3 linked regions of the Homo sapiens genome follow. The protein of the gene in region 2 interacts with the protein of the main gene of each other region in a pairwise test. Each region holds a gene or a part of one and is shown on either strand. Other genes may lie near its edges.

Region 1 (3,755 bases), on a different chromosome or scaffold from region 2:
GGAGTGGGTGTGAGCAGCTCAGCCCAATAGGAAAATGACGCAAGTCACATGTGTCAGTTTGTCTTGTAGTCACATTAAAAAAGTAAAAAAGAAACAGGTGAAATTAATTTCAATGCTATTTAGCCCTTGATTTCCCAAATATCATCATTTCAACATGTAATCACCATAAAAATTATTAATGAGACATTTTACATTCTTAAGTTAGTACTAAGTCTTTGAAGCCCAGTGATGTATTTCACACTTGCAGCGGATCTCAATTCAGACTGGAGCATTCCAAGTCTCCAATAGCCGCATGGTGGCTTCCATAATAGCTCCAGCATAGCTGTGTGAGTTCAGATGCCATGAACTAGCTGTAGTACCTTTACACGTTACTTAATCTCTCCCCTTCAGTCTCCTCCTCTCCAACATGAACACGATAATAATAGAACCTACCTTAGACAGTTGTTACGAGGATTTAATGTTTCTAGAATAAGGCCTGGCATATGGCAAGAGGTATAAAAGCATTAGCTTCTATTATTTTATTATTTCTTGCCCTTCCGAAAATCAAACAAGATAATGGATGTTGAATGTAATGATACGAGTTTTAAGACCTTGTTTAAAATTGTAATTGCCACTAACTGCAGTTGAACTAACAAAAACCAGTCCTGATCTGCCACCCTGAGTCCTGCATGCATTTCAGGTAGAGACTCCTGTAGCTTCTCATAAATTCCCATTTTCACTTATCACTTTGAGTGATGGCTCTGTCAGGTGCTACCAAAAAAAAGTCCTAGGGAGGCTGGGCCTTTTTTCCTGCCTTGCTGTTTCTGCTCTGAGGGAAGGATGGGGTGTTGCCTTGGCTCCACAACTTTGAGCCACCTGGCGTGTCTGTGCTCCATAATACAAAGACCAGGGAAGAAGCGGGATGGTGCTCATCTCATCAAGCGACAGGGCCAAATGGGATATGAGGTGTGCATGTGTGCATGATACTGTAGCCTGGCACATGGATACCCAATAAATAGTATGGTTTATTATTACTGCCTTTGAGGCCAGACACTGGGGAATTAGAGGTGAAAAGATGTAGTTGCTGCTCCTGTAGGGCCCACTCTGATCCCTAGAACTACCTGGGCAGGTTATAACTGTCTGCTTACCTGAGCATCCAGCTGGCACACCTGTGTAACCGGGAAAGAAAAGCCTCACTCTCCTTTTCCTTTGTAATAGGCACCTAACAGCATCTAGACATAACAGCATTCAAGACCAGGCAGGCGGCAGGGGAAGGAAATTTTGGGATTAGGCAACAATCCCTGGGAATGACATAAAAGGGACTACACTTGAAGATCTAAGAACTGAGGGAGAGAAACAGAATCTGAACTTTGAAGGGGACAGGGAGAAAAGGCTAAGTTTTCCTTGACTTTTCTGGGTGAACCCAAGAACTTCCATGGAGTCATTTCTGGTCAGGCCTTGATGGGCGTTCGGAGTAACCCTAAACTTCTGATACAGGGCCGGGCACAATGTCTCACATCTATAATCCTAGCACTTTGGGAGGCTGAGGTGGGGGGATCACCTGAAGACAGGAGTTCGAGACCAGTCTGGCCAACAAAGTGAGACCCTCTGGGCAACAAAGTGAGACCTCCCCCCACCTCACCCCGCCATCTCTACAAAGAAAAAAAAATCAGATACAGGTCTACCCCTAGAGAAGCACGAGCTGGTCTGGTGGTTAAGTTGTTTTCCAGCTGTTTGACCTTGGGCCAAGTTATTTAATCTCTCTAGGCCTCAGTTTCTTTGTCTGTAAAATGAGAAAAATAATACTGTATGGTCTTATTTGAATTTGAATATTCATTGTTTCACTTGATGTGTGAAATCTGAAATAACCCCAATTTTCCCAAGTTAAAAGTTGTCAAAAATCTTGTAAGGCAGTGTGAATTGTAAATTGTAAACTGTATTTATGCTATAGCCACATAACAGCACTGTCCTAACAGGTAATCAGAAATATCTACCATTCTTCAGCAGGTGAGCTTTTTTAAAAAATTTTTTAATTTCCATAGATTATTGGGGAACAGGTGGTGTTTGGTTACATGAGTGAGTTCTTTAGTGGTGATTTGTGAGATTTTGGTGCACCCATCACCCGAGCGGTACACACTGTGCCCTATTTGTAGTCTTTCATCCATTGCTCCCTTTCACCCTTTCCCCTTGAGTCCCCAAAGTCCATTGTGTCATTCTTATGCCTTTGCATCCTCATAGCTTAGCTCTCACTTATGAGTGAGAACATACAATGTTTGGTTTTCCATTCGGCCCGTGAGCTTTTAATGATACCAGTTTTGAATTATTTGAGGTCTTTAGGAATGCCTCCCTTGAGTAATTTGACTGCTCACACCTCCCTTACAGAGTAATTGTGAATATTTAATGAGATAATGCAGCAACCAGCCCACAGTAAGCACTCAGTAACAGTAGTGATTTTTGATACAATAATCATTCCTGAGAACAAAGAGAAAGATGATGTCATGGGAGAAGGTTGCCACACTCATGAGAATAAACAAGCAGACCTGGGTAAACCTGGATAGACCTGGGTCTGCTGTTTCCCCATCTGTAAAGTGGCCGTAACAGTGACCCCGTGAGGAGCTGAACATTTGCAAACTTTGGCATCAATGGCAATGAAAGCAGTTATAATGGCTGATGCAATTGTATAGCTGGGCATAAATGCAAAGAGGTACAGGATTTCTACAGGTGTGCCCTACTTTACACAAGATTGTAAAATTCAAATTTAGTCATTCAGTGATTAGCTTTTAACTTTTTGTTAATATTACAATGTGCAGGCTGAGTGCGGCGGCTCACACCTATAATCCCAGCACTTTTGGAGGCCAAAGCAGGTGGAGTGCCTGAGCCTAGGAGTTCGAGACCAGCCTGGACAATATGGCAAAACCTCATCTCTACAAAAACTACAAAAATTAGCCGGGCGTGGTGGTGCATGCCTGTAGTCCCAATTACTTGGGGGGCTGAGTGGGGAGAATTGCTTGAGTCCAGGAGGCAGAGGCTGCAGTGAACAGAGATTGTGCCGCTGCACTTCAATCTGGGCAACAGAGCAAGACATTGTCAAAAAAAAAAAAAAAAAAGAAAAAGAATAAACAACGTGCAGAGACTGGCTGAGGAGGATTAAAAAGCTATGGAACATGCCCCTGCCACTGAGGAAATTATAGCCTAGACAAGCAGGGATCAGTTGGCTTATCAGTGGCCTCACACAGATCACAGACTACTCTGTACTTTTTGTTTTGGGTTTTTAATTTGAAATTGTTGCCAATGTAAAACTTGGGAGATTTTCTGTTAACATCGACGTTTGCAGCTTTTCTTGGGCAGCAGAAGGATCTGGGCAGCACTGAGCCTGCATTTGGGCAGGTCAACAGGTAGCTGCCCCTTGAGACAAGGTATTACAGGCTGACTTGTGTCTCCCCAGAATTCACACATTGAAGTCCTAACTCTTAGATTATCAGAATGGGACTGTATTTAGAGATAGGACCTTAAAAACGGTAACCAAGGTAATATGAGTCATATGGGTAGGCCCTAATCCAGTATGAGTGGTGTCGTTACATTAAGAGGAGATCAGGACACAGACACATACAGAGTGACAACCATGTGAAGACACAGCAGATGATGGCCACCTGCAAGCCACAGAGAGAGGACTCAGAAGAAACCAACACTGCAGATACCTTGATGATGGGCTTCCAGCCTCTAGGGATCGTGAGAAATAAATGTCTATTGTTGCAGCTCCCCAGTCTGTGGTGTTG
Region 2 (3,755 bases):
GCGATTTCACGCATTCTGGGGTTTGTTTCTGTCTCCCTCCTGCTACACAGTCAGGCCCTTGAGGCAGAGTCTCCACTGGGGTTGCTTCGTCTTCCTAGAGCCCACCGCAAATGGCATTTGGTGAATGAATGAATGAAGGCATGACTGAGAAAAATGACTGATAGGAAGGTAACTACAAAGTGGAAACATGGAATAATTTTGGAAAAGGAGGCTCACTGCCAGAAGCACGGGGGCTTGGTTTTCAGAACGCTATTTTACACACTGAAAACTATCTGGTGGTTAAGACTTGAGCTTAGGATCTCTTATATTGAATTTAGTGAGGCCTGTCTGGTGGCCTCACTAAAAATAAACTTCTACGGGGTGGTGTTTGTATCTCACGCTACTCAAACTGCTTGCATAATACTCATGGTTCAGATAATGACCAGCAATCCTCATTCATTGCCAAGTTTATTGATTTTGTTTTCTGACTTCTGCACTGGAGGCAAAACCTGCCCTGCTCATATGCAGGTGTCCAAAGTGATGGGAGTATGGGGCACTTCACCTATGAGTATGGCCAACTGCTGTAGGAAGGAACTTACTTTTTGGGTTCCCCCTGCCTTTTTTTTTTTTTTTAAGACTCTGTCACTCAGGCTGCAATGTGCTGGTGCAATCATGGCCCACTGCAGCCTCAAACTCTTGAGTTTAAGCAATCCTCCTGCCTCAGCCTCCCAAATAGCTGGTATTACAGGTGTGTACCACCATGCCTGGCTAAATTTTTTATTTTTTGTAGAGATGGGGGTCTCACTTTGTTGCCTAGCCTGGTCTCAGACTCCTGGGCTCATGCCGTCTTCCAAATTGCTGGGATTGCAGGCATGAGCCACCACGCTTGGCCCAGAGTTCCCTCTTTAGGCAGAATCAAGCAAACACCATTTTATGCAAAAGCAAAATTCAACTGCAACTCAAATGGAGAACAAATGGAATTTATAAATTGAACAGTCTAATATCTTTCACTTCCCTCTGTGTCCTTTTTTTCCCCTGGAGATTAAAAAAACAGAGTTACAGAGGCTGGTTTGTATTAGAATTGTAAAGCTGTCATTTAGTTGCTAAGTTGGCAATTTGCCTGAGGCCAGAATTCAGAAACATCCGGTAATACATAATACCCGGCTTTCTAGAGCTCTGAGACATTTTATGGAATTTACAAGTAATTTCAAGTTTTCCTTTTGGGGAGTTCTTTAGAATATATCTCTTTGGTGTGGTTTTCAATCAAATCACCATTTTTACAGTTTGTGCAAATTGCTGCTTGCCTGGCCTTGGGGAAAAATGCCATTCTGATATTTAAATCTACTCTCTTAAAGAATGATTTATGTCTCCAATGTATAAAGCACTGTTTCTTCACAACCAAACTTAAGTGCCTTTCCCAGTGTTTAAAAAGTGCTTCAAATTTATTAGCTGCTTTTGCACTAGAAACAAATTGCCTCAACATTTTAGCTAAGTCTCCCACTGAGACTGATCTGTGTGCAGCTATTTTTTGGTAAACAGTAATTAAACCACATTTACAAATTCATCAGCACAGAAAGGCCATAACACAAACAAGTCAGAAAAGCATGGAATAAGTTATTGGGAAAACGAGTGTTCACAATTAAGCCTAGAATTCATCTACAAACACTTTACTAAGTATGAGGACTAAACTTGAGACACCATCTGGACTTGGTTAGATGGTACAACACAAATCTTAGGGGACATTTGACAGAGTTTCATTCCTTAGGTGGTGAGGAGGAAGACAGAGGGAAGCCTGACAATACCTTTTTCTTTGGGAAGACAGGAATTTCTGCCCGTTTGAGTCGAAGGGATGGGGCAGGATAACATTAGGGAAATGCTACAGTAATTGGCAGTTAAGAGAAAAACAGTTTGGAGACAAAAATTGCACCTTGGGTCAAATCGTTTTCATAACTCCAGTCAGTCATTAAAACATTTATTTTGTGCTAGTTGAACATAGGTATGACAGGCTGTCTTTTAATAATTTTTTCTCTATTAAGTTAATTGCAGTATTATTTCACCGTCGCCATTTACATTTACTTTTCAGGTATCAGAGACTTATTGCTTTAAGTAGCAAATTACCTAAATTATGAACACATATTTTCAAAACACAAAATTGAGTTCAAAATTACCAAGTGTATATATACTGTGCAGAAGATTAAAAAAACTGAATTAGCATATATTTCTTTTCTAAAGTTCCTATGAAGAACTTACACTCTCCTATACTATCAATCCATTCTGTATATTTAAAATAACATTTGTTTTTATTTAAATAGTCAAAAATATAATGGCTTACACTTTTGTAAGACTAACCAATAAAAAAAGGACTCCAATTTTAAACCAATCCCTGAAACCAAAGCATCAAATATTTTAATATTAGTTCAATATTTCTACATAGCACAATAAGGTTTTCGCAAACAGTAACTCAAAGTTTTGTCTTTATTTTTAATCACGGGAATGGCCTACAATTCAGATAAGCCCACAAATTCATACTATCTTATAAACAGCAGTAACATTAATATAAACAATGTTAATTCAGTTATCTTAGGGGCCTTACCATATCATTAACCTATTTACAGAACAAAAATGTTTCTATGAAAGCTAATATATCTTTTCATGTTTGTTTGTTGTTAAGTGTGCTACAACAGAAATAGAGGTAGAATCACATTTTTCTTAAGTAACACTCTATAAGCCAATTCTACACAATTAAGGCATTTTTGCAATCTAAAATAGTAATGCTAATACTGCTTCAGTAAACTAGATTTACTAATTTAAGAATCCTAAGAAATTACGTATATGTGACTTTCAGACATCCATGTTAAACTACCAACTAATCAAGTTGTGGAACTGTTGTTCTCTGCTCACACTTAACATTCTTGAATGACCATAAAGTGGATAATGCTAAAATTTTTTCTAATCACAGTTTTTCTTATAAGTGACTATATGATATTTTACCATTTCTAAGAGGAAAAAATGAGACCTACTTGGCAGTCTGCATAGGCTGGTGGAAACTATAATCAGAGTGTAAAGACAAATCTTCAAGTGACTCAAAAAAGTTTGTAGATAACTCAGAATATAATCTGTTGGGAACTATGACACGTTGGCCTCCTGGATGTCCTGTTGGATGAACACTGGAAAAACACTAGAATAAAAATGCTTGGCTTCAAAGCCTGGCTCTATTGTTTACTAGCTGGTGGGTAATTCACTTAACATTTTGGTTCTCCTCAGTTTTCTCATCTGTAAAATGAGTTTAATGATATGAGTTCATCTCTTATTGATTCCATGTGAGAGTTAAATGAGACAGTCAAACATGTAAAGCTCTGGCATTCAGTCAGGGCCAGACGCTGCCATAAATGAAAATGATGCCTTATCCTAGATGATCTTTCATGTGACATCCTATTAAACTTTCACAACCTGTGTGATAGGCAGGCAGGCTTTCTCTATCTCATAAGCAAATAAATGAAAACTCAGAGAGGCTAGGTGACTTATTCCAGGTGACACTGCTTGTGAATGAGAGAGCCTAACTGTGAGTGTGGGCTGCTGCTTGGTTGCCCAGTGGTTTTAGCCCTATGCTCTACTAGCCCCAAGGACAAAGCATTTATAGAGATTAAGACAACAATCCATAAAAAGTCAGAAAGAAGTAGTGAAGAAGAAGGAGACAACCTCCTTTTGGAACTCATTTATTCCACAAACAGGCACTAAGTGTCTACTGGGGGTGAGGCACTCCTAGGCACTGCGGA
Region 3 (3,755 bases), on a different chromosome or scaffold from region 2:
AAATGCCAAATTATGAATTCTTTATATAAGCTCAAAATATTTTGTTTTACTGCAGCTGCCACTGGTGACATGCCAACTTACCAGATCCGAGCTCCTACTGCTGCTTTGCCACAGGGAGTGGTGATGGCTGCATCGCCCGGAAGTTTGCACAGTCCCCAGCAGCTGGCAGAAGAAGCAACACGCAAACGAGAGCTGAGGCTAATGAAAAACAGGTGAGGTGTTGCACAGGGAATCGGTAACTTCTAGGACACTTTTTAAAAATTACAGTTTTCACCGGGCGCAGTGGCTCACGCCTGTAATCCCAGCACTTTGGGAGGCCAAGGCAGGCGGATCACAGGGTCAGGAGATCAAGACCATCCTGGCTAACACGGTGAAACCCCATCTCTACTAAAAAATACAAAAAAATTCGCCGGGCGTGGTGGCAGGTGCCTGTAGTCCCAGCCACTTGGGAGGCTGAGGCAGGACAATGGCATGAACCTGGGAGGCGGAGGTTGCAGTGAGCCAAGATCGTGCCACTGCACTCCAGCCTGGGCGACAGAGCGAGACTCCATCTCAAAAAAATAATAAAACAATATTAAATATTAATAAATGATAATAAAATAATGATAAAAATAATATCAATAAATAAAAATAAAAATAAAAATTACAGTTTTCAGCTGGGCGCAGTGGCTCCCGCCTGTAATCCCAGCACTTTGGGAGGTCAAGGCGGGCAGATCACAAGGTCAAGAGATTGAGACCATCCTGGCCAATATGACGAAACCCTGTCTCTACTAAAAATACAAAAATTAGCTGGGTGTGGTGGTGTGCACCTGTAATCCCAGCTACTCGGGAGGCTGAGGCAAGAGAATCACTTGAACCCGGAAGGCGGAGCTTGCAGTGAGCTGAGGTCGCGCCACTGGACTGCAGCCTGGGTGACAGTGAGACTCCGTCTTAAAAAAAAAAAATTACAGTTTTCATAAGCCATTTCTCCCAAGTTACATGTTGTGTGGCATTTCATGTAGGTTTGTGCTCTGTGTGTGTTATTAGATTGTCTTCCAGTCAGAATTCCTGGCTGTTAAACTATTTCATCAGCAGGAGTTACATCCCTATGTTGTAAGGGTGATGTCCAAAAGATACAGTAATTTTTAAAAATAATGATTAAAGGACTTTGTTAGAAACAAAGAGCTATTTTGTATTTAGTATTTGCTGTGAAGTAGGTGATAAGTCGAATTTTTTAGCTTCTCTCTGAGAAAAATGAAGTGTAAGTGAGGCGTTACTTTTCGACATTTTCTACATGTAGTTTCCTTTTGTCTATTTTTTAACTTTTTTTCCTCTATTACACTGAAATACATATTTAATCTGATAAATTCTAGTCAAGTGCAAATACAAAATAACAAAAAGAATTAAAATCATCCATGGCTCTAACCACTTAGGATACCTCCTATTATAGTCTATGTACTTCCAGTCAGCTCTCATTTTCTCTCACTTTTTCTTGCTCCATATCTCTGTCATTTTATTTTTAAGCAACATATTATAAAATGCTATTTTCTAAAACTTTTTAAAAATTTAAACATAAATAAAATTTTATTTAACTTGTATATTATTTATTGGTTTAGTTTTTATTATGAATAATGGTGCAAATTAATCTGATTTTCAAAAGGAACAGAATTGTCTTAGAGTTTCCCAGTAGTCTTGTCACCTTAGTCCTAATGTCAAATAATGTCCTCATTGTGTGCAGCCAGGACAGAGATTCAGCAGTGTTATCAAGGGCCCAGACTCCCGCTCCCGGCTGTGTCATCTTCAGCATGTATCATTCATTCTCATGATCACAGCGCGGCTACTGAACCTCTAGGCATTGCCTCAGACAGGAAGAAGGGCTAGAGCCAAAAATTGGGGCTAGCTGAGGTCTGGCCCAACTGCAAACCTTTCCTGGAAGATCCTCCCAGCAACTTTCACCTACATTTCATTGGCTAGAAATAGGTCTTTAGTCCCTAGCTGTACAGGATTCTGAGAAAGGTTTATTTTCGCTTTCTAAATCTCAGTTTCAGAGCAAGACAAGAGAAATGCAGATGATACCTGGCTGTTAGGTTGCTCATTATCTGTTTAGCAGATTTTAAGTGCTTTATTTCTACTGTGTGTTTAATGCTTACATGAGAATAGGTGATTATTATGCCCAGTTTACAGATGAGGACCAGAAGTTCAGAGATGTTAAGGAATAAGTTGGTCAAGATCACATGGCCCAAACTGGGCAGAACCAGGATGGGCAACCGGGCAGTCTTTATTCCAGAGCCTGTCCTCTATACCAGCATCAGGCATCTCAAAAATACCCCATGATAACCTGCAAATTTCACTTCCTGGGGAAGTGTGAGGCTTTAGTCATTCACAGATAGATCTCTTACATATTTTCTTTTTATTCTTTGATTGGCATCTATAATCGATATCTCATTATATCGTATTTCTGCCAATCCAGCAACAGTTTTTATTTCTTTCCAGCCTTGTCAGAGTTTCTTCCTTGCCTTGCACTTCCTCTCCGTGCTGAGGATACACCCAGACACATGCAAGCCTGAAAACCGAGCTCACTATTAATAGAAGAAACAGGTGTTTTCCATGGCTGAGGAGTGCTTAGGAATGTACCATCTACTGATGTGATCGGGGAAAGCTTTGTGCCTGCAACATTTTGACTCTAGTAATATGTGTGTCTGTGCATGCACACACACACATGCACACTCAAATGTAGAAGATGAAGTATGAGTATTTATAATAGCTTATTAAAGAAAATGTTTAAACACCCGCAACACCGCTATTAGGTCTTTAAATTTTTCATTTAATGGTAACCATGTTTTGTAAAATGACTATCTTCCTTCTAGGTCTAGAATTTAATATAATTTAATCATGAAAACGTTGGTATTCATAAATGAATTTCAGTGCCTTTGTGGAAAAGAGTTAAATTATGTCCCCAAATTGGCAAATGTGTGTGTTTGGATTTATTCTTAACTTTTCCAATTGCATCATTTAGATTAAATTAGTCACTATAACATTCTTTTCAATTTTACATTTTAAATTTCTTTTGTTAACCAGCTGAGAAGTCTGAGAACTTTGTATGTTCACAGGGTGAGTCCATTGTTCCTGGCTAGGAAGCAGGGGTTGATCTTTTCCTGCAGTTCATTTGGATTGAAGGTTCTTCTTTGCTGACTCTTGCTTCCATAGTGAAAACACAGATATCCACTCAGTGAGAGTCAGCTATCTTAAAAAAAAAAAAAAAATCATGTATACATCACATGTGGTTCAGGATGCTAGCTGGCATTACAGAAACTGGTGTTTAGACATTCAACACTGCTTTTTTTAACATATTTGAATGATAGTGTCTGTTTCAGTGCAGGCTTTTTTGACATGAAGGGTGATCTACCTCAAAGGCAGTTATTCTGGAATTGAATCCTCCAAAATGAGGCCAATTAAAGGGTGTCTTCTACATAGGAGTTAAGGGAAGTGGTTGCCATCCCTCCCACCCTGAAAAAAAGAAAAAGAGAAAATGTTGGCTCTATTTATTGTTTTGGTGGGGTTATGTATGAAAATGACTAAGTCAACTCATCTGTTTGTGTTGTTGCTTTGGCTACTGGTCTGTTCTTTCATTTTGGGCTTATAGTGCTTTAAAATTCAATATATTGGATATTAAATGCATGTGATTAGGAAACAGTCTTGAAATATGCCCAGAGTTACTCAGTAGCTTCTTTTTTATAATTTTAATTGTGGTGGTCTCACATTTGTGGGTTTAAATT

The links.
Region 1: the proteins of NCALD (region 2) and C1QTNF2 interact in binary tests that used the Homo sapiens proteins (3 or more experiments, as listed by UniProt).
Region 3: the proteins of NCALD (region 2) and CREM interact in binary tests that used the Homo sapiens proteins (3 or more experiments, as listed by UniProt).

Annotation. Positions count from the first base shown.
Region 1 is NC_000005.10:160,363,954-160,367,708, forward strand, and holds part of C1QTNF2 (complement C1q tumor necrosis factor-related protein 2 isoform 1 precursor), read right to left. Parts: intron 1-3,755. UniProt on the Homo sapiens protein: Involved in the regulation of lipid metabolism in adipose tissue and liver.
Region 2 is NC_000008.11:101,721,258-101,725,012, forward strand, and holds part of NCALD (neurocalcin-delta), read right to left. Parts: intron 95-3,755; exon of another isoform or gene 1-94. UniProt on the Homo sapiens protein: May be involved in the calcium-dependent regulation of rhodopsin phosphorylation. Binds three calcium ions.
Region 3 is NC_000010.11:35,206,840-35,210,594, forward strand, and holds part of CREM (cAMP-responsive element modulator), read left to right. Parts: intron 1-55; coding exon 56-212; intron 213-2,472; coding exon of another isoform or gene 2,473-2,518; exon of another isoform or gene 2,519-3,755.